Regions from separate parts of the Homo sapiens genome. Here regions 1 and 3 are each linked to region 2. The links come from fine-mapping of genetic effects on gene expression. A gene starts in region 2. Each other region holds a variant in brackets. All regions are shown on one strand. Distances are between the middles of the regions. Region 1 has its middle 19 kb from the start of CRELD2. Region 2 holds the start of PIM3 (Pim-3 proto-oncogene, serine/threonine kinase). Region 3 overlaps ZBED4 (zinc finger BED-type containing 4).

Region 1 (10,353 bases), 23 kb before region 2:
TAACGGGAGCCATGAGGATGCTTCAGGCCTTCAGATGCCAGCATCACTCAAACCCTGTGTCCAGCACTTCTGAAGATGTGTGCGTATTTCCGTTGCACTGTGTCTGGTTACCGAGGTCGGCGGCCACAGGCCGTCTGGTGGTGGTGGCGGGCGGGGGCGGGGGCAGGGGGCCAGAATCATCATGGTGTGGATTTGCCTTGGCGTTGCACATCTTCCTCTTAGGGACTCAGCCTTCACTTTAGTGAGATTTCTCTGGGTCAGAAACCCACTCAGGTCTAGAAACTGGGCAGCGTCATGACTTTTTATTTATTTATTTATTTATTTATTTTTATTTATTTGAGATGGAGTCTGGCTCTGTCACCCAGGCTGGAGTGCAGTGGCGCGATCTCGGCTCACTGCAAGCTCCACCTCCCGGGTTCACACTACTCTCCTGCCTCAGCCTCCCGAGTAGCTGGGACTACAGGCGCCTGCCACCACGCCCGGCTAATTTTTTGCATTTTTAGTAGAGACGGGGGTCTCGCCGTGTTAGCCAGGATGGTCTCGATCTCCTGACCTCGTGATCCACCCGCCTCGGCCTCCCAAAGTGCTGGGATTACAGGTGTGAGACACAGCACCCGGCCCTATTTATGTATTTTTGAGACAGAATCTCACTCTGTAGCCCAGGCTGACAGTGCAGTGGCGCGATCTCGGCTCACTGCAGCCTCTGCCTCCCGGATTCAAGTGATTCTCCTGCCTCAGCCTCCCGAGTAGCTGGGATTACAGGCATGCACCACCACGCCCGGCTAATTTTTGTATTTTTAGTAGAGATGGGGGTTTCACCACATTGGTCAGGCTGGTCTTGAACTCCTGACCTCGTGATCCGCCCACCTCGGCTTCCTAAAGTGCTGGGATTACAGGCGTGAGCCACCACGCCCGGCCTTATTTATCTATTTTCAAGAAAGAGTCTCTCTGTGTTGCCCAGGCTAGAGTGCGGTGGTGTGATCTCAGGTCACTGCAACCTCTGTCTCCCAGGTTTAAGCAATTCTCCTGCCTCAGCCTCCCGAGTAGCTGAGATTACAGGCACCTGCCACCACGCCCAGCTAACTGTTGTATTTTTAGTAGAGATGGGGTTTCACTATGTTGAGCAGGCTGCTCTTGAACTCCCGACCTCAAAGTGATCCACCTGCCTTGGCCTCGCAGAGTGCTGGGATTACAGGCTTGAGCCACCACGACCGGCCCTGACTTTTTATTGGAGCGAGTACCCTTGACCTCCGCATCACACAACCCTAATATATTTTGCTCCAACAAGCTGAGCAGTCTCTTGTGGGCTGCCTGTCCCTCTCCCAGGAACATGCTGTTCTATCAGCCACCTCCACAACCCCACGCAGCTCTGACCCTGGGCCCGCTCCAGCCCTGCAACTCATTAGAGAGCTGCCTTCACAGCCACTGATGGTCAAATGCTGCTGCCTGGCCATCACCCCCGTCCCTGTCAGCCAGTCCAGTGCTGTGACCGTCCCCTGCTCTCAGTTCCAGAGGACAGCTGGGATCTGTGGTGCCACATGACTTTCAGCCCCTGTCTGCGGTGGCTGTTCTGACATTCACCCCTCCTCACGTGTGTCCCACACTCCAGGAGCCTCTGGGCCGTGAAACAGAGCAGCAGAGGACACCGCCTCCTGGGGTCCTAGTCCTCAGAAAAGGGCCCACAACCCGTCAGCTCTCCGCCGTCCACCACATGCAGCTTATCTGGCTGGGCACGGCTTCGGGTCCCGGGCTCCTTCAGGCTGTGGCCCCTTTGTCACTGGGCCAGCACATCCCCACCAGGATACACTGCAACTTAATCCCAGGAGGGTCTCGGGCAGGTCCTGGGTAATCCCAGGAGGGTCTCGGGCAGGTCCTGGGGAGCCGGGGCAGGGGGCCGGCCTCTCCCACGGAGGAGGCACGGTTTGGAGACATCCTGTTTCTTCCCAGCCAGCACCGAGGCCGGGGCACAGCAGACCCCCGGGGATGGGGTCACCTATTGGTGGCCCCTCTGGTCACTGAGTCTGTGCGTGTTCTCCTGGCCTCTCCATGCAGCCTTCTGTTGTTTTTCCAGAGCTTCAGGGGCGGGCACCAGCAGCCCCCCGAGGACACTGTTCTCAAGGTTGTGCCCCCTGGACTCTCACCCCAGGCTCACCCACCCCAAGAGTGCAGGCCCCTTCCCGTCGCGTCCACCGCCAGTGGTGCCCGCTGGACAGAGTGCCTTTGCCTGTACACCTCCCTGGCGCTGCCTGTCTGTGGCTGGCTCCAGAGTGGCAGGCGGTCTTGGCGCCTCAGCCATGTCCTCAGCTGACCTGGGGGCTGGGTGAGGTGAGGCACCCTGAGACTTCTTCAGCGTGCTGAGCTGTGAGGAGGGGGCTGGGCCTTTGGCCACCACAGGATGACTCAAAGGGTGTGGCCTTCAGTGGGGTGCTCTCCTCAGCCTGCCCCTGCTGCTCCCTCAGCCCCCCGGTCCGGCTCTGTCCCTTTTCAGACTCCCAGACCCCGCAGGCCTGGGGTGGGGACTCTGCCTGCCACCTGGGAAGGGTGGTCGTCAGTGGGGTGACTCAGGGTGGAGGGCCCTGGCCCAGTGGCCCTGCCCTCCTCCTCATATGCCCGTGACCAGCACGCGGGTGTGGACTGAGCCTGTGCCAGGTGGGCCCTGGGGGTCGGGGGGCAGAAGGGCCCAGGTCCTGCAGGGGAGTGGGGGGCGGTGCTGGGGCCCAGAAAGGCTTACTGTAATGTGGCTGGTGGGGGCCACCGGCTCTCAGGCCACACACTCCCCCTCCAGGCCCAGCGCCCCTCCCCGCCTCCCTGGGGCTGCGGTCTTCCCAAACCCCAAGCCGGCTGCTCTGCACCAGTGAGGGGCCGGGAGTGGCCTGGCCTGAGGAGGCTGCAGGGCACCCACCTCTCCAGAGACCCCCTCCACCCACTCCCGGGGGATCCTTCTGGAGAGACCGTTCCCAGCCGTTGAGCAGGGTCCGCTCTCCCCCCTACCCCGGTCTGGCCTTTGGGAGGATCCCCCCAGAGCCAGGGAGGGGTATCTGGCCCCTCACCCCTCAAACGGCAGTCCAGGGCCAGCGTCTTTCTGCGCTCACCCACCTGCCTGCGACGGGGCTCTCTGGGCCACAGGGCGGCCACCACTCGAGGGTCACCCGCAAGCCTCGGAGTCCCTGCTCGGAGCGGGGGCTGGTGGTCGCGGTGGGGGTGGGGAGCGGGCACCCACTGGGGATTCACCCCACCCGGGCCCCCCTCCAGCCTCTGCCCGGCGCCCGGGTCTTCGGTCCGCCCTTTGCAGAGGAAGGACCCCGCCCTGCGCAGAGCGGGCTTGGGGGACCCGGGCGGGCGGCGGGGCGCGGGGTGGGGCGCGGGGGGCGGTGTTGCTCCCGCGGGCGGGAAGGGCGGGGAGCGGCCCTGCCGGGAAGGGGGCGGTGCCGGAAGCGTCAGCTGGGCTTTCCCCGGCGGGCGGGGGCGGGGAGCAGATGGGGGCGCTACGAGGAGGTGGGGGGAGGGGACGCAATGGAGGTGCCGGGGGTGCGCTGAAGAGCGAGACTGGGGCAGGGGGATGAGGGTCTGGGAAGGAGCAGGTGTTGGGGACGGAGGGTGGGGGCGGGGAGTGGGGGCGCGGGGAGGAGCAGGGTGGGGGCGGAGGGGAGGATGGGGGTCCGGGAGGAGCAGGGGCGGGGACGGAGGGGAGGGTGGGGGTCCGGGAGGAGCAGGAGTGGAGGCGGAGGGGAGGGTGGGGATGTGGGAGGAGCAGGGGTGGGGCAAAGGGGAGGGTGGGGGGTTCAGGATGAGCAGGGGTTGGGGCGGAGGGGAGGGTGTGGGGGGTCCAGGAGGAGCAGGGGTAGGGGCGGAGGGGAGCCTGGGGGTCTGGGAGAAGGAGGGGTGCGGGGTGTGGGGCCTGGGGTGAGCAGGGGTGGGGGCGGAGGGGAGGGTGGGGGTCCGGGAGGAGCAGGGACGGAGGGGAGGGTGGGGGTCCGGGAGGAGCAGGGACGGAGGGGAGGGTGGAGGTCCGGGAGGAGCAGGGGTGGAGGGTGTGGGGCCTGGGCTGAGCATGGGAGGGGACCTGCAGCCCGTGCCCAGCCCCATAGGGACCCGCCCGCGCTCCTCCCCCGCCGCCCCGGCCCCGCGCTCCTCGTCGCTGGGAACCCCCTGCGGGAGCAATGACGATGAGCAGGACGATGGCTGTGAGGGCCCGGCCCGAGCTCTGGGGCGTGGGCCGGAGCGCGGTTGGCCTTGACCTTCTTGGAAAGCCCTTGGCGGCAGGTGACTCCGCTTAGTCACGGCCCCGGGGGCGGGGGCTCCCCGAAGGAAAGGAGCCCCCGCGGGAGCAGGCGCAGAATGAGATGCACGAGCGCCACCGCCGCCGCCGCACACCCCCCGCCCCCCCGGGGTGGAAGCCAGAACCTGCGTCCCCAGCTCCCCCAGGCCCGCCCACAGGGCGCCTGGCTGGGCCTCCGAGCTTTCCTGTTTTCTCTGCAGCCTGGCTGGGCTTAGGGAGAGGTGGGGGGTGCGCCTCTTGATGCTGGGGACGCGTGTGGCACAGGGAGCCGGGTGCAGCCAAGGCTTGGAGGGGTGCCCCCCGCCCCACCCAGGTCACACTTCACCCTTCGTGGGGTCGGGATCTGGTCTTTTTACAAGCTAGGCGCCCTCCCCCCTTTTTTTTTTTTTTTTTTTCTCAAAAATGATCACAGGGAATGAGCCTCAGCCAGGACAGCGGGCTATGAGGCTGCCTGTTGCCCCCACCAGCCTGAATTCTGGCAGGGCCCTTCTCCTCCACCCACAGCCCTCCATCCACACCCCTCCAGTGGCTCCAAGGCCCATCTGACTTGGCCTCAGTTCACCTGTTTACTTCAGGGACACCTGGTTATACTGCCAGAGGCAGGTTGGGGGGCCTGCAGGGCCGGCCTCTC[T/G]CAAATCCACTTCTGGCTCTGCGGTCCCCACAGCACTTCCTTACCCCTTCCCCATGCTGGAATCTGAGAACCAGATATGGGGGTCCTGGTCTCAGCATCCCTTTCCATCCGGGGTGCCCTGCTGCTGCCAGCTCACGTGCCCACCATCCCATCCTCCTCAGGGTCAGTGTGGCTGCAGAACGGCCTCCGGGGAGAGCAGGGTGGGGGCTGTAGCCTGGTGCACCCCCAGCCTGCTGTCCCAGGTGAATGCAGACCCCTGGCTCAGCTGCTGACCAGATAACAGTGGCCCTTGTGCCGAAGCCTGGGTGGGGGCTGGGGTACCAGCCCCGGGTGTCTCCGGGCACAGAATGGCACCCACCCCCACCCCACCCGCAGGCAGCGGCCAGCAGGAGACATTGTCCGTCCCCCTCAACCCTGGCTATTAATAGCTCCTCTGGGCTAGGAGCGGCTATAAATAGTCCCAGCCCCTCACACAGGCCCATTCAGGCACCCGCTGCCTGGGTGTGCACAGCAGCCACACTTGCGCTCACTCAGAGCTGTGCACGCGGGAACCGTGCCACTTCTGCCCCTCCACGCCATCTGCACTGCACAGATCCAGGCTGTCCCTGCAGCCCTCACTGGGTCTCCTGTGGCAGGGGAGGGCCCTGAACCCTCTGGAGGCTTTTCCCTTGCCCCCTCCCGCCACGCCCAGGGTCCCCTTGGGGCTTCTAGCTACTCTAGGGTCTTGCTCTGGGGCTTCTGGAAGTCAGATGCATTCACCCAAAGCCAGCCTGGGGCGGGGGGAGGTCCACCTGGAGGGAGGCCCAGCCCCTGCAGAGACCTAAGCCTGGCCTCTGCCCCAAGCACTGCTGCCTCGGGCCATGAGGCTCACAGGGTCTCCTTAGCCCAAGGCTGGTCCAGCCTCCCACCTGCCCTGTGGGGCAGACGTCACTGAATTCCCACTCCTTGCCCTGGAGGCCTCATTGCCGTCAACTAGGCTATGGCCCCCACTGTGACTCCCACTCCCAGGGTGACAGAATGGGCACCTGGTCCAGGAAAGCCTGCTCTGTGGACCCCCTACCCGTCCACACTGTCCACGCCCCATGGCTAGTGGTGACAGGAGACAGGATGGGGGGCATGGGGGCTGCTGTTATTGTGTCCAGAGGAGAAAAGGAAAACAATCCTGTTTACGGAAAAGGAATGTCCGTCCACTGCCGCCAGCCAGTGGCCTTCCTGGGGGGACAGAGGCCCTTTGTTGGGAAAACAGGAAGCGAGGATTTCCAGGATCTGCCAGGCCGCCCGCCGGCCACCCGCCCCACTTCCGCCAATTCTCGGCAGCCTGCGCTGGCCACCAGCTGCCCGTCGGTCCATCCACGTTTCTGTCTATCCGTCTGACCGTGGGGCCCAGGCGTACAGCCTTAGCACATCCTGCTCTATGTGGTGCCTCAGTCACACAGGGACAAACACCCACAGGGTCCTCGCAGGGCCTGGGAGGGCTGCCTGGGAGCTGAGACCCAAGGAGTGAGGACCCGTGCCCCACATAGGGAAGGGCAGTGCCAGACATGGAGAAGGCGGATGGGGCAGGGGCCACGGGCCAGGAACCGGGGAGGCGGGAACAGCCAAAGGGAAGCTGTGCCAGACTCTCCCCTCCCCACCCAAGAGCCAGGGATGGTTTTGGGGTTAGGGGTCACTGTGTCCTTACTACCCAAACCCACTTACAGTCCATGGCCCACGCGATGCTCGCCTGTCACTGACCCGGGACAGCATGGGCTCACTCGTGCATGAACACCAGACGTGTGTACACTCAGCGGACACTCACCTGTGCACACACAGCACACACGTGCACACACCACGGACACTCTGACCTGTGCACACACAGCACACACGTGCACACTCAGCGGACACTCACCTGTGCACACACAGCACACACGTGCACACACCAGCACCCCCCAGCACGGATGCAGGCACCGTCATGAGCACGGAGACCACCCCAGGACACCAGCAGCTGCACCCCCCGGCGGGGCTGCACTGGCCGACAGTGCCCAGGGGACTGCTCCCAGCCCCTGTGGGGGGCTTCTGTGATTCTGTGTGGGTTCCTGTGTGCCCTGTTTGGGCTCTCACCGGTCAGAGGGGGCTGGCACAGTGCCTGTGACCTCAGTCCTGGGCAGGGCCAGGAGGTGCCAGGAGCAGGCAGGCCTGGGGCAGGACTCTGTTTAGGGCCAGCTGGAGGACCCTCTGCCCCCACCTCCACATCCCAAGTCGGCAGCTTCCTCCCACTGTGGTGGTGATACAGGAGATAGAAAGAAATTATTTAGGTAGATAATGAGGGCAAAAGAGTCCTCAGCAGAACCTCCCTTCTAACAAAAAGCAGGCCCGGGCGAGGTGGCTCACAGCTGTAATCACAGCACTTTGGGAGGCCAAGGCGGGCGGATCACCTGAGGTCAGGAGTTCCAGACCAGCCTGGCCAACATGGTGAAACGTCTCTACTAAAAATACAAAAATTAGCCAGGCATAGTGGCGGGTGCCTGTAATCCCAGCTACTTGGGAGGCTGAGGCAGGAGAATCGCTTAAACCTGGGAGGCGGAGGTTGCCGTGAGCCGAGATCGCAGCACTGCACTCTCAGCCTGGGCAACAGAGAGAGACTCTGTCTCCACACAAAACAAAAAAAGCAGAAAGCAGCCCAAGAAATCACTTCTTTTTTAACAAAGAGCAGCCTGGAAGATTAGGCGGCAAACAGATCAGGCTGGAAGCTTCACAGGACATGGAGGCAGCTGCACAGACAGAAAGGGCTCCCTGGGGCCAGGAACGTCCACCCTGGGGCTCCATGTCCCTCTTAGTTAGCACACACGCACAGTAAGAAAAAAATGAGCGGCACGGAGTAGCTTCCCACGTGCATAATAAAAGACTGGGGTGCCAGCCGGTCACGGTGGCTCACGCCTGTAATTCCAGCACTTTGTGAGGCCGAGAAGGGTGGATTACCTGAGGTCAGAAGTTCAAGACCAGCCTGGCCAACATGATGAAACCCTGTCTCTACCAAAAATACAAAAATTAGCTGGGTGTGGGGGCGTGTGCCTGTCATCCCAGCTACTCAGGAAGCTGAGGCAGGAGAATCGCTTGAACCCGGGAGGCAGAGGTTGCGGTGAGCCGAGATCGTGTCATTGCACTCCAGCCTCGGCAACAAGAGTGAAACTGTCTCAAAAAAAAAAAAGATTGGGGTGCTACACTATGTAGATGGCACGCCCGGTCCCAACCAGTTTTTCGTGCCCTATGTAGATCAGACACTGCCTCCCCACTAGCTCATCTATAAAAATCTCTGCATTTCATCTCGGATGGGCAACCCATTTTTCTGGGACCCCTCCCTGTAGCAGAGAGCTGTTCTCTGTCTTTCTTTTTCTTTTTTTTTTTTTTTTTTGAGGCGGAATCTCACTCTGTCACCCAGGCTGGAGGGCAGTGGTGTGATCTCAGCTCACTGCAATCTCCATCTCCCAGGTTCAAGCGATTCTCCTGCCTCAGCCTACTGAGTAGCTGTGATTACAGGCATGCACCACCACGCCTGGCTAATTTTTGTATTTTTAGTAGAGATGGAGTTTCACCATATTGGTCAGGCTGGTCTCAAACTCCCAACCTCAGGTGATCAGCCTGCCTCAGCCTCTGAAAGTGCTGGGATTACAGGCATGAGCCATCGCGCCTGGCCTGGACAACCTGCATTTAAAAAGCACTTTCTTAGGAAGTATGTCAAATGTACATGGCTTGAGCCACCACACCCAGCCTATTCTCTTTCTTTCCTTTCTTTCTTTCTTTCTTTTTTTTTTTTTGAAACAGAGTTTTGCTCTTGTTGCCCAGGCTGGAGTGCAATGGCACAATCTTGGCTCACCGCAACCTCCACCTCCCGGGTTCAAGTGATTCTCCTGCCTCAGCTTCACGAGCAGCTGGGATTACAGGCATGCGCCACCACACCCAGTTAATTTTGTATTTTTAGTAGAGACGGGGTTTCTTCGTGTTGGTCAGGCTGGTCTCGAACTCCCAACCTTAGGTGATCTGCCCGCCTCAGCCTCCCAAAGTGCTGGGATTATAGGCTTGAGCCACCATGCCCAGCCTATTCTCTTTCTTTTGCTGATTAAATGTCTGCTTTAACCTCACCCTTCTTGTGTCCTCATCCTTGATCTCCGTGGCTGTGAGACCAAGAACCTTGGGTGTCACCCCAGAAAAAAGGCTGCTTCAGCAGTCCATCTTCTGACCCGGAAGACCCCTGCCCTGGTGTAGGTGAGGGAGGCCCACGTGGATCTACGATGCCAGGTGGGGAGGAGGACAGGTGTGAGGGGACAGCTGGAGCAAGACCCCTGGTCGGGCGTGCCTCAGTTCAAAGGCCCAGACAGTGCAAGCAGAAGAAGGAGAGGGTGCTGGGAGGAGCCGTGGCAGGGGCCAATCCAGGGCCTCTGGGCCCGGTGAGGGCTTGGGGTTCACTCCCATCAGGTGGGGCTGCACCAAGAGGCTGTGGCTGATGCTCAGAGGGTCTCTGCTGCTGAGCACAGGTGGGGACTGGGAGCAGCAGGCTGTGAAAGTCCCAGCCCGTTGGGAGGACAGGCAGTGGCCTGGCTGGATTCCAGGTCTGTTTTAATGTGGAGCTGATGGAACTTTCGGAGGCCGGGGTGAATGGTGAGATGTAGACAATTCCAAGAGCGGACACGGCTGGGGGGGCCAGGGCCTCAGTTCACACCCTGACCTGCCTTTGCGCAGAGCGGCTCCCAGGAAATCACACCCTTTCTGTGGCAGACACAAAGGTCAGGTGTGAGGGGGCAGGTGGACTGGGAGTTGGAGGAAGGGGAGGGCCCGGCCCTGTGAGCAGAGGGTGACCCTTCCCTGGCATCTGCTGCTGCCATGTGCCCCAGAACCACGAAGGTGTGTGGGTCCCACATCCACGTGCAGGCCTTGCATCCATGGCTAGGTCCCACGTCCAGTTCCAGGCCCGACATTCTGGTCCCTGGGTCCAGCCCATGGCCTTCCTCCATGGGCGTGCTGAGGGCCTGCAGCCCGTTCTCTGCCAGCCTGGCCCCTAACACAAGGCAGTGACCCCAGCCTCTCACCAAGGGGACCCATTAGCCACACTGCATCAGGCCTATGGCAGGTGCTCAGTGCAGTGTGGGCCATGATCCCAGCAGGCCCCACACCTCTCCAGATGCTTCCTGACCCCAAGGAGCCTGCATGCTGGCCAGGGTGGAAGCAGCTCTGAAGAGTCAGCACTCGCGGTGGCCAGGACCAGAGAGGAAGGCAGAGTGCCTGTGTCCCAGGAAAGAAGAGGGCATGGCGCCCAGCTGCGGGGCTGCTCTCAGGGCAGCAGCTGCTTTGGGGACACCTCAGCTGGAGTCTCAGGTCAGGGAACCCTTGTGTCCACACATCCACCTGTCCATTCACCCAGGGGTCCACCCATCCAGCCTTCTGCAGTGCTGACATCCATGGGCTCCCC
Region 2 (10,353 bases):
GCCCAGAAGCTAAGCCCTCGCAGTGGGGTCAGATGTGAGCTGTTGAGGGCAACTCTGCCTCCCCAGCCCCGCGTGGACCAGGCCAGGACAGGAAGAATGAGGTGGGGCCCCCATGACCAGCTGCGGCTCTTGGCCTGCAGGATTTCAGCAGGGAGAAGGCAGAACTGCCATGTGGCACGCTGAGCACTGCCCAGCCGCCTCATCCCAGGAGCCCTCCTCCCGGGGTCTGTGCCCAAAACCACAGGCTCTTCTACCGGGCGCCCACTGGGTGCTGTGGGACGTGCTGCTTGGTACAATGTCGTCAGATTCTCCGCACAGCCTCCACAGAAATCGCAGTGCCTCTCCAGAGACTGAGCCTGATAGAGTCTGGGGATGTGTCTGTGACTCTGGGCTGGGTCAGCGGAAGAGCAGGGACCCAGGCCGAGGTGCCAGGACGGCCCCAAAGGGCCACCAGGGAAGGCACTGCAGGGCCAAAGGCCAAGAGCTATGAAGTGGGCAGGGCTGTGGTCCAGGCCCAAGGCCAGGGTGGCCTGTCCCTGGTCAACAGGTCAGAGGTCCCAGGTGAGGGGGCCCTGCACGCCTGCCCTGGCCCCCGGCCCAGGCCTGGGACACACAGGCCACGCAGCTCCGGCTCAGGCTGAGTCGTGGTCTGGGTGGTGGCAAGGCCACAGCTCTCCAGGTTGGCAGATCCAGTGAGGCTGCTGCGCTGAAGCCACAGTTCCCACCATCACTGCAGCCCCCGGGCGACCAACAGAGGCAGCCCCCCTCCAGCTGGGTCTCAGCGTCTGCTCCACTGAGGACAGGGTTCAGGACGGGACACTCCCACAGCATCTTCTATGTTTGTGCAGGACTCTTTCTGCAGAGTCCAAGTGACGGATGCCAGGCGGCCATGCTCACTGGGGCCCAGGCCCCGGGTGGCTTATGGAATATAAATGGTCTGTGCTGGTAGCAGGTGGGGGTAACCTGGTGGGAACAGCTGCCTCTCTAACACAGGCCAGGCCTCAGCTGAGGGGTAAAACTGGTGTCCTCCAGGCAGGGACAGAGGCTGGAAGAGGCAGCCAAAGCGGCTGGGCCTGAGTTCATGCAGGTCGCCCACACCCCCAGCTCCCACTGACTAGGCGCCCCACTCCACCCCAGGCCCAACCCTGGGATGCCTTTGGTGAAACGTTGCAAAATCCTGGCACAGCTCTGCTGGCTCCTATCTGCAGCGGGTGAGAGGCTGCGACGACCGAGAGTGGAGGCCAGAGGGGAAAGGGCCTCTCCCCACAACAGGCATCGCCTGCCCCCGCCACTGCCCTGGGAGCACCCAGTCTTGGCCGCTGCAGCCTGTGTGGGCTGGAAGACGAGGTGCAGCAGGTGCCCCTCCCAAGCTGGGAACAGCTGGGGGAGTCCGGTCTGCGGGGAGATGACGCAGAGCTCCAGCCCAGGGCCTGGGGCGGCCGTACTGGGACATTGATTCTGGGTGGCAGCAGGTGCTGGTGGGGGCCAGGCCCATGGGCTGGGGAGGAGGGCCTGTACCCTGGTGGCCCAGGGGAGCCACAAAGGGTCCAAGGCAGGACTGTGAGGGGCTCACAGTGGGAAAAAGACCATGGTGGCCAAGGGGGCTCACACTGGGGCCTGGGATGAGGGTGGGAGCGGGCAGGTGGATCGGCAGGAGGGAGGTTTGGGAATGGGATAGGCCTCGGTAAGGGCTTGGGGGCAGGTGAGGGGACGCCCCCTCCTCAGGCATGGCCTGGGTTGGAAGGGCATCACATACAGGCAGGACAAGGCCGGGCGACCCTGTGGGATAGGCACGGGGCAACTGGAAACAGGCTGATTAAGGAGGCCTTGGTCATTGGCTTGGAGACTGGGGGTGGACAGGATCCCCAGGGAAGGAGGGAAGAGGGGCGGGATGGGCCGGCGGGAGGCAGGACAGTGGGGACACAGCCTGGGGAGCAGGAATGGGGGTGCCCGTGGAGCATGAACCCTGTTAACACTCCCCTCTGCAATGCCCCAGCTTTGAGGAGGTGTCTGTAAGTGTGATTCTATGTGTGAGTGTTTGTGAATTGGTGCGTGTGAGCAGTGTTAGCATGCATGTGTGTGTGGGAGACTGTAAGTGGCCCCAGCCACCTTCCATTCCACCTCCTCATCCTCCCGAATCCAGGCAGGCCAGCCTGGCTTGGGTCACCATGGCAAGAGCGTGACCCTCCTTCCAGCAGGCCAGGGTACCTGGGGGGACTCGCCGTGTCCACTGCGGAGCAGGGGCGGCTGTTTCCAGGTCAAGCAGTCGGGATGGGATGGCTCAGGGGCTGGGCTGGGGACTGGGGTGTGCAGACCCTCTGACAAGCTCTGCTCCACTCCCCTGTCCCTGCCCTGGGAAACACCTGCTCCAAGGACAGGCAGAGGCCCTGGCCCTGGAGCAAGGCTGCCCCTCTCAGCAGGATAGCCCAAGGGAAGGAGGCACCCATGCCATGCCGGCCTGAGCTTCAGGTGGGGTGGGGGGTGGGAGGACACAGGAAGGGGCTGGGCTGGGCCCTCTGCAGTCAGTACCCAGGTGGAGCGGCTCCCGCACCAAGACCCCGCCACGCCCACCTCCTGGCTCACCTCCTATCTGCAGGAGCGGCCCCAGCTCTGGCCCATGGGCTGGGCCTGCCCATGGGGCCCACTGGATGGGCCATCCACGAACCAGGAAAAAACAGGCAGGGCTGGTGTCCTGCACTGCTGGGGACTTGGCCGGGGGGTGGGGTGTTGATGGGACCTGTGGGAAAGGGGTGGCCCAGGGCAGAGGGTGAGAGGCCCTGAGGCCTCTCAGATTTTTCTTGCCCTGTATGCAGAGCGCAGATGCTCCACAACTGGGATGACCCATATCTGTTTGCCAAGCTGAGGAACAGGCTGGGCTGTGCCCAATGGCAGGGGAGGGGCACGACAAGGTGAGCAGGGTTATCTGGCGTTACTGGGGACCCCAGCACTCCAACTAGATCAGATGTGGTGGCCTGGGCCAGACACAGTCTAAAAGAGGCCTCAATGTCAAACAGTCCCGGGGGAGAGGGAAGGGCTGGGGACCATGCTGACCCCGCACGGAGCTCACCGTCAGTGCAAGGGTCCTCGCTGCACACACAAGCACGTACAACAGTAAATCGACAACATACACCAGTGTCTGGACAGACGTGGTTACAAAGATGTCACACTTTAGGGAAAGGGCTGCCTCTGGCCCTGCCCTGCCCTCCACTCCAGGGCCAGGCTGCTGGACCCCCACGCAGGAGCCCTCCGGAGGCTTTCACCGAGGCCTGTGTGGCAGGAATCCCATCTGGAGGCCTGGAGGAATCTCCAGCACACCTGGAGTGAGCGGGAGGAGGGCCGTGGAGGACAGGCACACCGTGCTTTCTGAAGGAGCAAGTCCTCCTGGATCTTAGTTAAGGGACACTTGAGGGTTTCAGAGCAAGACCCGGGGCCTAGGGAGAGCCAGGGTGGGGTGCCTGCCCGCCAGAGCCTGGTCTTCTACGGCCAGGATGACTCAGGGAAGACTGGCCTGGAGCCTGACATGTCAGACTCAAGGAAGACTAGCCTGACATGTCAGGCTGAGGACCCTCGCCCCTCCAGACTGACATGAACTCAACTGTAGTGGTCACCCCCTAGACCTACCGTGCTCTCCAGCATCTCTGCCCACCTCTGCTGCGTGTCCAGCACAGAAGAGGGCAGCCCCACTGGACCCTCAGGTAGGTCCCCGGGAGGACCCACATGGGCAGCAGCCCCTCCTCCTTCGCAGGTGCTGTGTGGATACTGCTGGAGGGGAAGGCTTGGGGTGTCATCCTACCAGGGATCTGATCTCGGGGGAGCCCTGTGCTGGGTGCGTGGTGGGTGGGGGAAGGCTAACCCACCAGCCCCAACCCTGCCCTCGTACTGCGGGAGAGAACTGGACAGAGCTCTGGGAAGCAGCGGCTGGAGGGGGAGGGGCCTGGGGACAAACAATGTCGCGTTGGCTTTGATCCTCAGGACCCAAGGGACAGGAAGAGATGAGCTAGGCAAGAGAGGAGCCCCCAGGAGCACAGGCATGGGCCCAGGCAGCGGGCGACGAAGCGAGCCCCAGAGGGCGCCCAGATGGCAGGTGGGCCTGGGCCAGTCCCGAGAGCCACAGCCTCAGAAGAGCTGAACAGGGGAGTGGTGTGTGAGTGGTCAGCGCAGGGACAGCGATGGTGACTGTATAGAGATGAGAGGTCAGACTTAGGGGAGGCTGGAAGCTCCGAGGCAAGTGTGTGTGCGCGCTGACGGTCACACCAGACCGCCCGGGGATGTCTGCCACAATATTTAGACCCCTGAGGGCCACTGAGAACGCCTGGCAGTGCCAAGAGGACCAGCCCCTGGGCCCTCTGGCCCCCAACTCTCAACCCACTAGCCCTGGGGCTGGCGGGTGGCCACTCACGTCCTGGAACCCTGAGCTGCTCTCAGGCCGGTGACTTTGGACCAATGTTGGCAATCTGTGGGTTTGCACCAAACCACACAGGTGAGTCAGACTTCTGTACAGAGAGCAGGGAAGGGGCACGACAGGGTGAAGTCCAGACCAGGGCAATGTGTACCCCGGCTGTTCAGCCTTTGAGTGCGGCTGTCGCAGCAATCAAGGTGGGCTCCCTGGTGGAGGTGGACAGCAGCTGCTGGAGAGCCCGGAGGGCAGCCAGGACCGTGTCAGACGGCAGGAGTCGGGCGGGGCCACTCCAGGCACCGGCCAGCAGGGCAGAGGTACCAGGGAGGGCCCTCGGGCTGCGGGCGTGAGGTCAGAGCCCAGGGTGAGGAGGAAGCATCTCCAGCCAGGTGCGCTCTCGGCCCCCGCCGGGGCTGCGAGGCTGGGGGCGCTGCCGCTGCGAGGGCTTCCAGAGGAGCCGGCGCTACCTCCCCGCGCGCCCGGCCACGTGCGCGACGGGATGCGCAGACAGCCGGGGACGCAGACTGGCGGCGTGTGTCACCTCGAGGCCGCGGGACAAGCGCAGGTCGCCTCCCGCACTCCCACACCCCCAGGAACCCTGCTCGGGGCCGGCGGGTGACCTTCCTAGGCACTGCTGGGGGCGGAGCCAGGAAACGGCTCGCCCCGCCATTGGCTGGGGCGCCGGATTTCTTTAAAAACTCCGGCTTCCATTGGCTCGTGCAGTCCCTCCTCGTTCTGCCCGAGGCGCCACGGCCGCCACCCGCGCGGGCACTGCGCCTGCGCGGAGTGAGAGCGTGAGCGCGGAGAGCGGACCGACGCGACACGCCGTGCGCCTCCGCGGCTGCGCTACGAAAACGAGTCCCGGAGCGGCCCCGCGCCCGCCGCACCCGGCCCTCGCCCGCCCGAAGACAGGCGCCAAGCTGCCCCGCCGTCTCCCCAGCTAGCGCCCGGCCGCCGCCGCCTCGCGGGCCCCGGGCGGAAGGGGGCGGGGTCCCGATTCGCCCCGCCCCCGCGGAGGGATACGCGGCGCCGCGGCCCAAAACCCCCGGGCGAGGCGGCCGGGGCGGGTGAGGCGCTCCGCCTGCTGCGCGTCTACGCGGTCCCCGCGGGCCTTCCGGGCCCACTGCGCCGCGCGGACCGCCTCGGGCTCGGACGGCCGGTGTCCCCGGCGCGCCGCTCGCCCGGATCGGCCGCGGCTTCGGCGCCTGGGGCTCGGGGCTCCGGGGAGGCCGTCGCCCGCGATGCTGCTCTCCAAGTTCGGCTCCCTGGCGCACCTCTGCGGGCCCGGCGGCGTGGACCACCTCCCGGTGAAGATCCTGCAGCCAGGTACGCGCGGGGCCGGCGGGGCCGGGGCCGGGGCCAGGGCGGGGACCGGGGGCGCCCCGGGCCGCACCAACCCCGCCCGCGCCTCCCTGCAGCCAAGGCGGACAAGGAGAGCTTCGAGAAGGCGTACCAGGTGGGCGCCGTGCTGGGTAGCGGCGGCTTCGGCACGGTCTACGCGGGTAGCCGCATCGCCGACGGGCTCCCGGTGAGTCGGACCGCCGGGCGGGCCCGGGTTTCTCGCGCGCCTTGCGCCTCGCTTGGCCCGGCCTGACCCCCGCGTCTCCGCAGGTGGCTGTGAAGCACGTGGTGAAGGAGCGGGTGACCGAGTGGGGCAGCCTGGTAAGTTGGGGCACGGGCGGCGGCGGCGGCGGGGGGCGGGCGCGGGGCTTTTGCTGACCGCCGTGTCCCCCAGGGCGGCGCGACCGTGCCCCTGGAGGTGGTGCTGCTGCGCAAGGTGGGCGCGGCGGGCGGCGCGCGCGGCGTCATCCGCCTGCTGGACTGGTTCGAGCGGCCCGACGGCTTCCTGCTGGTGCTGGAGCGGCCCGAGCCGGCGCAGGACCTCTTCGACTTTATCACGGAGCGCGGCGCCCTGGACGAGCCGCTGGCGCGCCGCTTCTTCGCGCAGGTGCTGGCCGCCGTGCGCCACTGCCACAGCTGCGGGGTCGTGCACCGCGACATTAAGGACGAAAATCTGCTTGTGGACCTGCGCTCCGGAGAGCTCAAGCTCATCGACTTCGGTTCGGGTGCGCTGCTCAAGGACACGGTCTACACCGACTTCGACGGTGAGCGCGGGCGCGGGGCAGGGAACGTTCCGGGGGCCTTGCCGGCGGGTTAACGCCTGCAGGGGCGGCACATGGAGGGGCTGATGACTGTTGGGCGGCCGCGCGCCCTGGGTCTGCTCTCGTGGGGAGCAGAGGCCCACGCGCTACCCTGGGGAGGGCTGAGCGAGGGATCAAGAGCGGGATCGTGCTGGGTGGGGGCTAGGGGCGCGCTCAATATTGCTTCCTCCATCGCGTTGGGGGGTACGGGGCCTCTTGCCCCGGTGTGGGAGGCGCGTGACATCCTTCCGGCCCGAGAGACCCCCGGCTGGGGGCGGTAGCGGAGGAGTCTCCGTGCGTGACGCAGGGCGCAGCCGGGCTGGGTCTGCGCCGGGAGCCTGGAGGCCCCCGCGGCGCGGTTGGAGTGGCGGGGCCTCCCCTGCGTGGGGGCGGGAGCTGCGTGCGTGCGGAGCGCGGGGGCGCGGCGGCAGAAATCCCCGCATTGCGGAGCTTGGGGAAGCCGGGGCTCCCCGCCCGCCCCTCCCTCCTCCCTCCCTCTCTCCCCTCCCCCCGTTCCCGCAGGCAGGCGCGCCGGGCGGTAAGGGACCCGCGCTGTCCCCCCCCCACCCAGGTAGCCTCACAGCGCATCTGTTTGTTGTGAAAGCCGAGCTCTTACTCATGTGACCTGCTCCTCCCCCGCGGCCGGCGGAGGGGGACGGCCGGCCCCTCCCCCAGCCCCCCCATCGCCTGCCGGGGTTTTTCCAGGGTGATGACGAGCAGGATTTTGAGGCCTGGCTCTGCTTCCTGTTACTGAGGCCAGGGAGTTAACCAGCAGGGACCTCGCCGTCTGTTGAGCGGCTCTGCCTCTGTGGTGGGCGTGCTAAGCCCTGTGTCCCCTTAGGCACCCGAGTGTACAGCCCCCCGGAGTGGATCCGCTACCACCGCTACCACGGGCGCTCGGCCACCGTGTGGTCGCTGGGCGTGCTTCTCTACGATATGGTGTGTGGGGACATCCCCTTCGAGCAGGACGAGGAGATCCTCCGAGGCCGCCTGCTCTTCCGGAGGAGGGTCTCTCCAGGTGCGTGGTGGCTCGAGGCGGGGGTGGGGGCCTCGCCCTGCTTGGGCCCTCCCTGACCTCTCCGCTCCGCACAGAGTGCCAGCAGCTGATCCGGTGGTGCCTGTCCCTGCGGCCCTCAGAGCGGCCGTCGCTGGATCAGATTGCGGCCCATCCCTGGATGCTGGGGGCTGACGGGGGCGTCCCGGAGAGCTGTGACCTGCGGCTGTGCACCCTCGACCCTGATGACGTGGCCAGCACCACGTCCAGCAGCGAGAGCTTGTGAGGAGCTGCACCTGACTGGGAGCTAGGGGACCACCTGCCTTGGCCAGACCTGGGACGCCCCCAGACCCTGACTTTCTCCTGCGTGGGCCGTCTCCTCCTGCGGAAGCAGTGACCTCTGACCCCTGGTGACCTTCGCTTTGAGTGCCTTTTGAACGCTGGTCCCGCGGGACTTGGTTTTCTCAAGCTCTGTCTGTCCAAAGACGCTCCGGTCGAGGTCCCGCCTGCCCTGGGTGGATACTTGAACCCCAGACGCCCCTCTGTGCTGCTGTGTCCGGAGGCGGCCTTCCCATCTGCCTGCCCACCCGGAGCTCTTTCCGCCGGCGCAGGGTCCCAAGCCCACCTCCCGCCCTCAGTCCTGCGGTGTGCGTCTGGGCACGTCCTGCACACACAATGCAAGTCCTGGCCTCCGCGCCCGCCCGCCCACGCGAGCCGTACCCGCCGCCAACTCTGTTATTTATGGTGTGACCCCCTGGAGGTGCCCTCGGCCCACCGGGGCTATTTATTGTTTAATTTATTTGTTGAGGTTATTTCCTCTGAGCAGTCTGCCTCTCCCAAGCCCCAGGGGACAGTGGGGAGGCAGGGGAGGGGGTGGCTGTGGTCCAGGGACCCCAGGCCCTGATTCCTGTGCCTGGCGTCTGTCCCGGCCCCGCCTGTCAGAAGATGAACATGTATAGTGGCTAACTTAAGGGGAGTGGGTGACCCTGACACTTCCAGGCACTGTGCCCAGGGTTTGGGTTTTAAATTATTGACTTTGTACAGTCTGCTTGTGGGCTCTGAAAGCTGGGGTGGGGCCAGAGCCTGAGCGTTTAATTTATTCAGTACCTGTGTTTGTGTGAATGCGGTGTGTGCAGGCATCGCAGATGGGGGTTCTTTCAGTTCAAAAGTGAGATGTCTGGAGATCATATTTTTTTATACAGGTATTTCAATTAAAATGTTTTTGTACATAGTGGATAATCCTGTATTTATGGGGCTGGGCATCCTGGGGGAAGAGAGGGGCTCTGAGGAAGGGCTTTGGCTGCTGGGTGACCTGACAAGTTTCCCGTGGGGCTGGTAGTTTTGCCCACGGGGGAAACGGGGGAGGCCCAGCTGGGTGCCAGCCTCCCCAGTGCCACAGGCTACTTCATGTGGCTTGTGGCCCACCGCACTACCCCGTGCTGCACCCAGGGAGAAGAGCAGCTGCCTCCTGGGGTGCCTCTGGGAGGTGGAGGCAGGGAGCCAGGCCCTGAGGATGCAGCAACCCACACTAGTCAGGAGGTCATTCCTCGGTGGTCCCAGGAGGATCTCTGCAGCCCCCACCCAGGGAGGCCTTGCCAGTGGAAATGGCCATACTTGCATCCTGGCTTGGTGGAAACAGAGACGTGCGGGGGGGTGGGGGAGGGAGTCCATGCTGCCTCAGAGGGTGGCTGGGGGTTTTGAAGGACAGGGAGGAGTTTGCCAGGCACATGGGGTGGGAGTGTGTTCCGGGCAGTGCCAAGGACGTGCAGAGGACATGAGGGTGGGGTTTGGTGGAGGGTATCGGGGTGTTCAGTCAGTTATAGTTAGACCCTGGCCTGGCGGGTGTGTGGTGAGAGAGTGGGGTATGAACCAGGTTCGGGTGTGTCAATGGGCCTGGCCACAATGTTCCTGGTGGGTAGAGGAGGCCTGGGTGGAGGGTCCCAGTGAGACTGCTCCCCCACCCCCACCCCAGGGGCCTTCTGCTCAACTGCCCACCCTGTGCTGGGCTGTGGGGTGCCCCATGTTGGCAGTGGACCTGCACCTGGGGCATCACCCAGTCTGCCAAGCGCACCTACTCGGCTCTCTGGCTCCTGGAGCCCTGTCTGCCCCCTGCCTCCCATCTGCCCCTCCGAATAAGAGTCCCTGATAAACAGCCCGGGGCAGGCAGCACCATACTGGACAGAAGACTGTCCCAGGCCCGAGGCCAGAGGCTGTGGCAGAGGCGGGAAGTTTGGGAAAGAGAAACAGGAGGAGACGAAAGTCACCCTTCCCCTGGAGAGCAGGCAGAGAGGGCTCGGGTGGGGGGCTCCCGCCTCAGGTTGTGACTGTTCAGGACATCAGTGGGTGTTTGTGGCCTCTGCTGTGGAGATCCAGGAGCACCTGGAGGGCAGCTGCTCAGTTAGGCAGGTCTCTCGGGGCCCTCATCTCACCCTACAGCCTCAGGCCAGCAGGGGAGATGAGGAGGTGCCGGGAAGGACAAGCCACCGGTTCCCATAGACCTGGCCCAACCAGCGTGCCCTGAGTCCAGTCTGGTCCAGTGAGGCTTTTCCCATTACCCCACCCCCCACTGCCAAAATGGGACCCTCGGGCAGCAGCCATTGCGGCCCACCTGCTCCTGGGCCAACTGCCATGGGCATTCCCCAGCCCCCAGCCATGGGCATCCCCAGCCCCGGCTTCAGCCAGGCAAAGGCCCTCCACGCAGATTGCTTTTGGGAAACTGAAGGCCAGAGAGGCAGGAACCTTGGGCAGATGTCAGAATAGGACTCTGGTCCTTCCCACTGCTGTGCCCCACACACTGCTGCTGAGGGCTGGCTGGGGACCCC
Region 3 (10,353 bases), 95 kb before region 2:
ATCAGCTGGGCATGATGGTATGTGCCTGGAGTTCCAGCTACTCAGGAGGCTGAGATGGGAGGATCACTTGAGCTCAGGAGTTCCAGACCAGTCTAGGCAGCATGGCAGAACCCCATCTTTACAAAAACATACAGAAATCAGCCGGGCATGATGGTATGCGCCTGGAGTTCCAGCTACTCAGGAGGCTGAGGTGGGAGGATCACTTGAGCTCAGGAGTTCCAGACCAGTCTAGGCAGCATGGCAGAACCCCATCTTTACAAAAACATACAGAAATCAGCCGGGCATGATGGTATGTGCCTGGAGTTCCAGCTACTCAGGAGGCTGAGGTGGGAGGATCACTTGAGCCTGGGAGGTTGAGGCTGTGGTAAGCTGCAATGACGTCACTGCACTGCTGCCTGGGCGACAGAGTGAGACCCTGTATCAAAAACAAAACAAAACAAAACAAAAAATACATATATATAGTTTTACTTAATTTCTTTGATTCTTAAATTATATGTTATTCTGAAAAATCTTAATAATATCATTGGCCTTGTTTTGTGCTAAAATGTGCATACAGTAGGTTGTAGAATTACAATACCACTCCTGTAAGAAAACTGCTTAGTTAACTTTGCAGGTTTTTGTTGAGTTCTTTTTGTCCTTAGTTATCTTCCACTTTGGATGAATAAAGTGCTGTATTTTAAAGTTCCTTGACAAATACTCTTGTTTTATTTTTTATTTTATTTATTTTTCCCAAGAAAGAAATAAGACAAATATTATTTTCTCTGGTTATGTTGCCCATTTGTTTCAGATCATTTTTAGATTTAGGATTTTTTACAAATTTTATGTACAAAATAATTACCTGTTATAAAGGTCAGAACTACATAAAAGCTACCTTTCTTATCCCCACCACTCTTCTAAGCAACCTTTTTTTTTTTTTTTTTGAGACAGAGTCTTGCTCTGTTGCCCAGGCTGGAGTGCAGTGGCTCGATCTTGGCTCACTGCATCCTCGGCCTTCCGGGTTCAAGCAATTCTCCTGCCTCAGCCTCCCGAGTAGCTGGGACTACAGGCGCCCACCACCACGCCCAGCTAATTTTTTGTACTTTAGTAGAGATGGGGTTTCACTATGTTGCCCAGGCTGGTCTCGATCTGAGCTCAGGCATTCCACCCACCTCGGCCTCCCAAAGTGCTGGGATAATGGGCATGAGCCACCATGCCCGGCCTAGGCAACGCTTTTTACTTCTGCTACGTCCTGTAAAAGTAAGCAAAACACACCCACAACTCATTTCCCCTCCTGTCTTTCACAAAAGTTAGCATGGGCTGTTGACACTGTGTGTGTCTGGTTTTTCTTGTTTGTTTGTTATGAGATGGAGTCTCGCTCTGGATTCAAGTGATTCTTGTGCCTCAGCCTCCTGAGTAGCTGGGACTACAGGCACCCGCCACCACGCCCAGCTAATTTTTATATTTTTAGTAGAGATGGGGTTTCACTGTGTTGGCCAGGCTGGCCTCAAACTCTTGGCTGCAAATGATCTGCCTGCCTCAGTCTCTCAAAGTGGTGGGATTACAGATGTGAGCCACCACACCTGACCTGTTTGTTTTGAGATAGCGTCTGGCTCTGTTGCCCAGGCTGGAGTGCAGTGGCCTGATCTTGGCTTACCGCAGCCTCGACCTCACGGGCTCAAGTGATTTTCTCACTGTACCCTCCTGAGTAGCTGGGACTACAGGCGCATGCCACCATGCCAGCTGATTTTTTTCAAATTTTTTGTAGAGATGGGAGTCTCACTATGTTACCCAGGCTGGTCTTGAACTCTTGGGCTCAAACGATTTACCTGCCTTGGCCTCCCAAAGTGCTGGGATTACAGGCGTGAGCTGCCGTGGCTGGCCCCTGCGTGTCTGGTTTTTCTGCTCAGCACATGTATGAATGTGTGGGTCCTATTGACGGGCTCTGATCCTTTGCCGTGGGATGCCGCTGTGACTGACGTTGCCGTGTGTTGCATTTTTTGTGTTTCTGGTGAGGACTGTCTTCAGGTCTGTTCGTAGCGTGTGGTTGCTGGGTGGGAGGATACATGTAATTTTGGTGAGTGCTTCCAAGTTCCCCCGCACAGGCCTGCACCCTGTCAGCACTGTGGGAGAGGGCCTGACCAACAGAGGGCATTACTAAGCATTTGGATTTTTGCCAGGATGGTAGGGTGAGAAGGGGTATCTTGAACGGGTTTTCATTTAATTTGCTTCAATCTGAATGTGAAAAATGAAAAAACTGTGCTTTACTGAATTGGATGTAGCACGGAGCAGTTGAGATCATTGAATGCAAGTGGCTCATTTTGTTAGTAAGTCCCCGAGGGCGGTTGGCCCTGTGCGTGGAACCTATACGGAGCGGCCCCAACGCTTCTGCCGCAAAGTCGCTTGGAAGGTGGTTTCTCTGTCTTTCTTATTTTTTGTGCGGCGGAGGCCTTACTTTTTTGCTGAGACTGGAATTGATCTCCTGTGCTCAAGTCTCTCACCGTGGCCTGCAAGTAGCTGGGACTACGGGCGTAAGCCACTGCGCCCAGCCTAGTGTAGCTTTATAAGTGTGTTTTTAAACCTTTTTTATTTTAAAGTGTGGCACAGATACAGAAACTGAATAAAATCAGTGTCTAGCGTAATGAGTCATATGATAAGATGGACACAGTTGTAACTGGTGCTTGGGTCAAGAGGTGCTTGCCAGCTTCCAGAGCCCCTGTGCGTGCCGCCCCAGCCCCTCCCAGCAGAGGCTGCCTCAATCTTACTGTTACAGCAGCTACTTCCTTATTCTTTGTTGTTTTGACTGAACTGAGTACCTCTAAATATTAGTTAAGTTTTTCCTTTTTTTTTTTTTTTTTTTTTTTTTTAGACTTAAGTCTTGCTCTGTCGCCCAGGCTGGAGTGCAGTGTCGTGATCTCGGCTCACTGCAACCTCTGCCTCTTGGGTTCAAGCAATTCTCCTGCCTCAGTTTCCTGAGTAACTGGGATTACAGGTGCCCACCACCACGCCTGGCTAATTTTTGTAGTTTTAGTAGAGACAGGGTTTCACCCTGTTAGTCAGGCTGGTCTCGAACTCCTGACCTTAGGTGATCCACCTGCCTCAGCCTCCCAAAATGCTGGGATTACAGGTGTGAGCCACCGCACCCGGCCAGCCTTTCAGTCTGAATCTACAGGTTACATTATCCACCCCACCTCCCGTGGAAGTATTTTCTGAGGTAACTTGGTGGTTGGACTCGTGCATCTCACGGTCTAGATTTTGCTGGCTGCATTCTTCTGGAGAGGCCCAGTGTGTTCCTCTATCCTTTGGTTTCTTGTAGATTGTGTTTGGTTGGTTGGTTGGTTGGTTGGTTTTGAGGCAGGGTCTTGCTTTGTGGCCCAGGATGGAGTGCAGTGGTGCTCCCGGGCTCAAGTGATTTTCCCACCTCAGCCTCCCTAATAACTGGGACCACAGGCACGCATCACCACACCCAGCTAAGTTTTAAAAATTTTTTTGTAGGCCGGGTGTGGTGGCTCACGCCTGTAATCCCAGCACTTTGGGAGGCCGAGGCAGGCGGATCACGAGGTCAAGAGATTGATACCATCCTGGCCAACATGGTGAAACCACGTCTCTACTAAAAATACAAAAATTAGCTGGGCGTGGTGGCGAGTGCCTGTAATCCCAGCTGCTCAGGAGGCTGAGGCAGGAGAATTGCTTGAACCGGGGAGGCGGAGGTTGCGGTGAGCTGAGATCGCGCCACCGCACTCCAGCCTGGGGACAGAGCGAGACTCCGTCTCAAAAAAAAAAAAAAAAAGTGTGATGTTCTGGCTGAGTTATTGCTTCTTTATGTAGTAGATGAACTATTAAAGATAAACCTCTTCTTATCCACTCTCTGGTGTTATAGTTCATGGAGAAAACTGAAGATAAATGCCTGATTCTTTTTTTAAATTCATCAGTTTTCACAATGATGAATCATTTTCCTATCAGCCTCCAGAGGCGACCAGTTAGGGATTTGATGTTGGTATTGGTGAACTAATGAATTTAAACATATTTGGGATGTTAAATTCTGTCCTCTTTGGACAGTGAGAGCCCCTACAAGCTGGCTCCTGGATCCTTTTGACATCATTCCTGAACTCTCTCAGAGGTTTCTGGCTGTCTGATATGTTCTGTGCTCATCTTGTATTTTTCCGGCTCCAGACCTGAAATAAGCCATTTCTTCAGCTCTGGTTTCTTTTAAGGGCTTGGAAGTTTCAAAACCACAGTCTGCATGTGACAGGTGCTCACTGCTGTTGGGTTGGCCGCTGGTTCTAGGCCTCTGCTGGAGTGTGTGATCTGCTTTCTGACGGCAGGGCGTTCACATGGGTGTGCTTTAATCTTACGTCTCCGTCCTCTTTTTCCACTGAGAGTGCTGGTCTCAAGGACAGTGGAGATGAGAGAATTGGAATATCGCATAATGTCTCATCTGTTTTATCTCTTGCTACAAACATCACAATCTCAAAATAACAATGGCAGTACAACTGCCACCTATATCATTACTGAAAACAGTGAAGATATTTTTTGCCTAAGTCTTCCCATTCTGTGTAGTTATGCAGGGTCTCAACTACAGAGTGTGTAGCCATTACGTACTACAGATGCTTCGCAACTCAGGACACGGCCACGTCCGATAAACCCATCAAAGTCGAAAATGCACTTAATACCTGATTGGAGCCTGGGCATGGTGGCTTACGCCTATAATCCCAGCACTTTGGGAGGTTGAGGTGGGAGGATCACTTGAGCCTGGGAGTTTGAGACCAGCCTCAGCAACCTAGTGAGACCCCCTCTCTACAAAAAATGTTTTAAAATATTAGCCAGGTGTGGTGACACTCAGGTGTAGTTCCAGCTACTCAGGAGGCTGAGGCGGGAGGATTGCTTGGGCCCAGGAGTTTGAGGCTACAGTGAGCTGAGATTGTGTACTGCACTCCAGCCTGAGCGCCAGAGTGAGACCCTGTCTCCAAAAAAAAAAAAAAAAAAAGCCCTGATTAAACCGTCGTAGAGCTGAAAGATTGCGAGTCAAACCATCGATGAAGTTCAGATGCTCCTTGATTGACCATGGGGTTCTATCCCAGCAAGCCCCCCCCCCCCCCCGTGAAGTCAGAAACCACGGAGTCCAGCTATTGTGCTGTGTTTCTCCCCTGCAAACCCTTATTCAGTCCTAGCTCTGCAAGTGACGGCAGCCCCGGGTCTCACTAAGGGCAGGGGTGTGTTCTGAGAAATGCGTTACTCAGCGATGTTGTCGTTGTGTGAACCTCATAGAGTGCACCTACACAAACCCAGATGGTATAACCTGTCACTCCGAGGCTGCAACTCTGCACAGCAGTTACTACACTGAAGCCTGTAGGCATTTGTAACACCGTGGCAAGTATTTGTGTGTCCAAACAGAAAAGGCACAGTAAACAGATGGTGTCGTTATCTTATGTAGCCACTGTGGGGTGCGCTGCTCTTTGCCGAGTGAGGTGTTGCTGTGCAGCACGTGACTGTGTGTGTTAAATGCTTACACGGGGGCCGGGCGCAGTGGCTCACGCCTCTAATCCCAGCACTTCGGGGGCTAAGGCGGGCG[G/A]AACTCCTGAGTTCAGGAGTTCGAGACCCGCCTGGCCAACATGGTGAAACCCCGTCTCTATTAAAATACAAAAAAAAAAAAATAATAACCCGTCTCTATTAAAATACAGGTGTGGTGGCAGGCACCTGTAATCCCAGCTACTCAGGAGGCTGAGGCAGGAGAATGGCTTAAACCCGGGAGGCAGAGGGTGCAGTGAGCAGAGATCACACCACTGCACTCCAGTCTGGGCGACAGAGTGGACAAAAATAAAAATAAATGCTCACATTGGGTCCTCATGTTTCTGTTGTGTTTTGGTTGAGGTTTGCTCTCCGGTAGATCTCTCAGGAAGGACTCATGGAACAAGATGTCTTGACTTCCTGCATCTTGATAGTAGTTTTTCTGCATTCATTGTGCTCGAAGGTCAGTTTGGCTTAGTATAAAATCCTTGGTTCACATTTTCTTTTTTTTTTTTTTCCCTTTAATTTTTTGTAGAGCTGGGGGTCTCACTATATTGCCCAGGCTGGTCTCAAACTCCCAGCTTCAAGCAGCCCTCCCGCCTCCACCTCCCGATGCTGATTATACGCGTGGGCCACTGTGCCTGGCTAGTTCACTTTTTTCCTTGAATGTCTTAACTATGTTATTCTATGGTCTTCTAGGATAAAGCATTGCTGTCAAAATCATGACAGTTTTTTCTTTCCAAGTGACTTTGTACTTTGCCTGAGAGCCCAAAGGATTTAAGTCTAGTAATTTTGTTAGAAAATAAATTAGTGTTATTAGTTGAGGATGGATTTTCTCAGTCCCTTTCACTATGTGGCTTGACAATTTCTAATTCAGGAAAGGTTTTTAAGTGTTTAGTATTCTGTTCTCTTGCCCTGTCCCCTCCTGTTTCTGGGGTGGCTGTTCTGATTGTACATATGTTGGATCTTCTTTACGTGTCTTTTAAATTGGTCCGTTTCTCTTGAGTCTTTTTTAATCCCCTCATTTCTTTTTCATTAAAAAAAATTGTGTTTCCCTTTCATTTATCTTAAGCTGTCATCTGTGGAGTTTGTTCTCCTGTTTCTTCTTTTTTAGGTCTTCATTCTTGAAGTCATATTTTACTTTTATTTTTAGTGTTTTTGTGGGACCTATAATCTCACATCAGAATTTTTCTATCCTGATTTATGTTGTTTCTTTATATCATTTTCTTAATTTCTTTAGTTTCTTTGCAAGAGGAAGTTACCGTTTTCATTTAATCTGAGGTCACATTTTTCTGTGAGCATATTTCGTTATCTGCAGTGATGTTTTTCTGCTCTTTAGTTTTTCTCATACCCTTCTGTGAGATGTGACAGAATTCTTTTCTGTTGCCTATTATATTAGTTTTCTAGTGCTGCTTTAACAAATTACCACAAACCGAGTGGCTTCACACAAACGGAAATTAGGAATCTGAAATCTGAGATGGGTCTCACTGGGCTAAATCAAGATGCTGGCGGCTCTTGAACGGTGGCTCTCGGCAAATGCACGTTCTTACCTCTTGCGCCTTCAGGAGGTCACCTGCCTTCCTTGGCTTGCATTGGTTTGGTTTGCTGTTTTTTCTAGTGTTTTCTTTTAGGTGAGTACTTTATTGACTGGAGGTCATCTTTTCTAACACAGGTATGTAGAGCTTTCAGTTTCTTGCTAACCACCACTTCAGCTGCATCTCATCCATTTGGTGGGTTGTATTTTTATTGTCGTTCAGTTGAAAACACTTTCCAGTTTACCTCACGGTTTGTTTTTCACCCGTGAGTTATTTAGAATTGTATTTTGTTTTCAAATAATTGCTTATTTCCCAGATTTCTTTCTTTTGCTTTATAATTTAACTCCATTGTGTTTAGAGGACTTGTATAGTTTCAGTCCTTTTGAAATGCCCAACGCGTATGTTATGGGCCAGCATGTGGTCTATACTGTGGGAGGTTCCCTGGGCCCCTGAAGAAGCGTGTGCCAGGCGGCGGTGGGAGCGGCGGTTGGGGAGGCACTGCGGTGCATCCACTGGGTCAGTTGGCTGACGGTATTGCTCAAGTCTTCTCTGTTCTCGCTGACTTTCTGTCTAGTTCTGGGTGGCCTGGTAGGCCCAGCAGCTTCTCTTCATGGGAGTTTTTGCCCCAGAAAGAAGTGTCAGCTGTTTTGTTTTGCCCCAGATCGGACCTTGGACCCTGACCCTCCTCTGCTTTGCAGATGTGCAGAAAGTCACCCACCTCAGCAGCTTGGTTCTGTGGGCCGTCCAGTGATACCTGTTGGCTACTTGGGGATGCTCGGTGTATCACACGCTTGATGACATCTTTCTTTTCCAGCTGCCAGATCTAATACCATCTAGGCCTTGTAATACTGACTGCAAGGGGGCTTCCATCCTGATACACCCATCCATCATCAATTAAAAATATCTTCAGTGGAAAATGCATTTAATTCACCTGATGTGCCGAGCATCATAGCTTAGTCCAGCCCCCCTCAAATGTGCTCAGACACTTACATGAGCCCACAGTTGGGCAGAATCACCTGACACAAAGCCTGTTTTGTCATAAAGTGTTGAATATCTCATGTAAGAGTGTCACACCGTATGTTGTTAGCCTAGGAAAAGATCAACATTCAGAATTCAAAGTACAGTTTGTACTGAATGCCAGTGGCTTTCACACCATCGTAAAGTTGCAGGTTCGTAGGTTGAACCGTCATTAAATCAGGGACCCACTTACCCATATTCATGGTTTGTCCCTTCCACTTACATTTGTTGGTTAACGGAAAGACCTTGTCAGTCTTCTTTTTTGTTGTTGTTGATAACATCAGAGGATTGTGGTTTTACTGTTCTAGTTTTCCTTTTATTGAGAGATTTGGGGAAACTAAAAAATAAAATATAGGCAGTGTTACAAGCAAACAAATGAGCTTACTATATTTCAAATGAATAAAATAACTACACTTGAGGAAGGAAGCTGGCTGAGGCTGGTGGATCACCCAGGATCAGGAGTTCGACACCAGCCTGGGCAACATGGTGAAACCCCATCTCCACAAAAAATGCAAAAAATTAACTGGGTGGTGGCACACACCTGTCATCCCAGCTACTGAGGAGGCTGAGGTGGGAGGATTACTTGAGCTCATGAGGCGGAGGTTGCAGTGAGCCAAGATTGTGCCACTGCACTCTAGCCTGGGCAACAGAGCGAGACTGTCTCTTCCAACAAAAAAGAAAAATGAAAACTGACCCAAGAAACTCTTGGACACGATGTGATTATAAACCTCCAAGTAAAAAGATAAAAATTATAAATGAATTGTGATCTCCAGCTAGAAGGCTTGTTTTCTTGGTGGCCTGGGTTAGTAATTCTGCAGCTACTTCGTGCATGTGTTGTAGGGTTGAGCAAATGAGGAAATCTGCCAGGAGGGTGGGAGCCCAGCCTCCCAGAGGTGGATTGAAACGTCACGGATGCAGGCCGGGCGCAATGGCTCACACCTGTAATCCCAGCACTTTGGGAGGCCAAGGCAGGCGGATCACCTGAGATTGGGAGTTTGAGACCAGCCTGACCAACATGGAGAAACTCTGTCTCTACTAAAAATACAAAAAAAAAAAAAAAAATTAGCTGGGTGTGATGGTGTATGCCTGTAATCCGAGCTGCTTGTGAGACTGAGGCAGGAGAATCACTTGAACCCAGGAGGCGGAGGTTGGGTGAGTCGAGATCATGCCATTGCACTTCAGCCTGGGCAACAAGAGCAAAACTGTCTCAAAAAAAAAAAAAAAAGAAAAATCACGGTTGTGGAAAGGGGGATGCTCGGTCTTGTGATCTCAGGGTCAGGGCAGAGTTGGCGGTGTCAGTGTGAAGTTGTGGCTTTGATTCACGTACACACATGCATGTTGGTGTGTGTGTTTATGGGTTCTAGTGCTTCCGCTGGAAGGGCCTAAAGGCAGAGGCACCCGTAACAGTGAGTGCACGGCTGCCTACCTCGTACCCGCGTGGTGGTTATCCACCTCGGGCCTTTTTGGCAGCGCTCGTCCTCCAGACCAGATTATTTCATCTCTGACTGGAGAACACTCTTGCGTGGACTTTAGTGTGGGTCACTTAGAGACACGTTCTGTGTTTGGTTTGTCTGATGGTGTTTTTTAGTTCCTGTTTATTCCTCAGGGAATATTTGTACTGCTTACTGAATTCTGGTTTGGCTCTCATTTTTCACAGCTTTGAAGATGTCATTCCTCTGTCTCCTGATTTACATTGTTTCTCTTAAAAAGTCAGCAGTGTATCTCATTGGTTTTTTTCTTAAAATAGCTTTCATGGAAATAATCTGATATACGTAAAAGTGGAAAGGGTAGCATAATAAACCCTGTGCACGCATCCCCAGCTTCAGAATTACCAGTTCACAGCCATTCCCATTTCATCTGTGTCCTCCACTCACTTTTTAAAAAGTTTTGTTTTTAAAAAGAATTTCAACTTTGATTTTAGATTCATCAGGCACATGTGCAGGTTCACGACATGGTATATTGCGTGATGCTGAGTTTGGGATAAGAATGATCGTCGCCCAGATCGTGAGCATGGTACTCAATAGGTTGTTTTTCAGTCTTGTCCCCTCCTCCCTTCCTCCCTCCCTCACTCCTCACTCTCGCAGTCCCAGTGCCTGTGGTTCTCATCTTTATGTCCCTGTGTACCACATGCTTAGCTCCCACTGATAGGTGAGAACATGTGGTATCCGGTTTTCTGTTCCTGTGTTTGTTCACTTAGGATGATGGTCTCCAGATGCATGCATGTTGCTGCAAGGGACATGATTTTGTTCTTTTTTATGGCTGTATAATATTCCATGGTGTGGATATACCACATTTTCCTTATCCAGTCCACCATTGC

Evidence for each region.
Region 1: its variant is fine-mapped to the expression of PIM3 in whole blood (TOPMed, PIP above 0.99).
Region 3: its variant is fine-mapped to the expression of PIM3 in whole blood (INTERVAL, PIP above 0.99).

The regions. Positions count from the first base shown.
Region 1 is chr22:49,931,988-49,942,340 of GRCh38, forward strand. No RefSeq gene overlaps it. Among named protein-coding and RNA genes, the nearest start is that of CRELD2, 19 kb to the left of the region's middle. RefSeq lists silencers at 2,686-2,905, 3,016-3,405, 3,894-4,188, 3,965-4,504 and an enhancer at 3,916-4,755. The variant T/G (reference allele first, on the strand shown) is at 4,911.
Region 2 is chr22:49,955,311-49,965,663 of GRCh38, forward strand. It overlaps PIM3 (Pim-3 proto-oncogene, serine/threonine kinase), which reads left to right and starts at 5,462. Exons shown (of 6, transcript NM_001001852.4): 1 at 5,462-5,722; 2 at 5,815-5,924; 3 at 6,008-6,058; 4 at 6,132-6,501; 5 at 7,379-7,555; 6 at 7,630-8,762. The coding sequence starts at 5,638. The coding sequence ends at 7,817. It overlaps MIR6821 (microRNA 6821), which reads left to right and starts at 7,556; the gene lies at 7,556-7,629. RefSeq lists silencers at 4,435-4,494, 4,635-4,914, 4,955-5,594, 5,645-5,794, 5,935-5,984 and 2 more and an enhancer at 9,898-10,353.
Region 3 is chr22:49,859,877-49,870,229 of GRCh38, forward strand. All of the region lies in intron 1 of ZBED4 (zinc finger BED-type containing 4), which reads left to right. It also overlaps a transcript of ALG12 not described here. Among named protein-coding and RNA genes, the nearest start is that of ZBED4, 11 kb to the left of the region's middle. The variant G/A (reference allele first, on the strand shown) is at 5,549.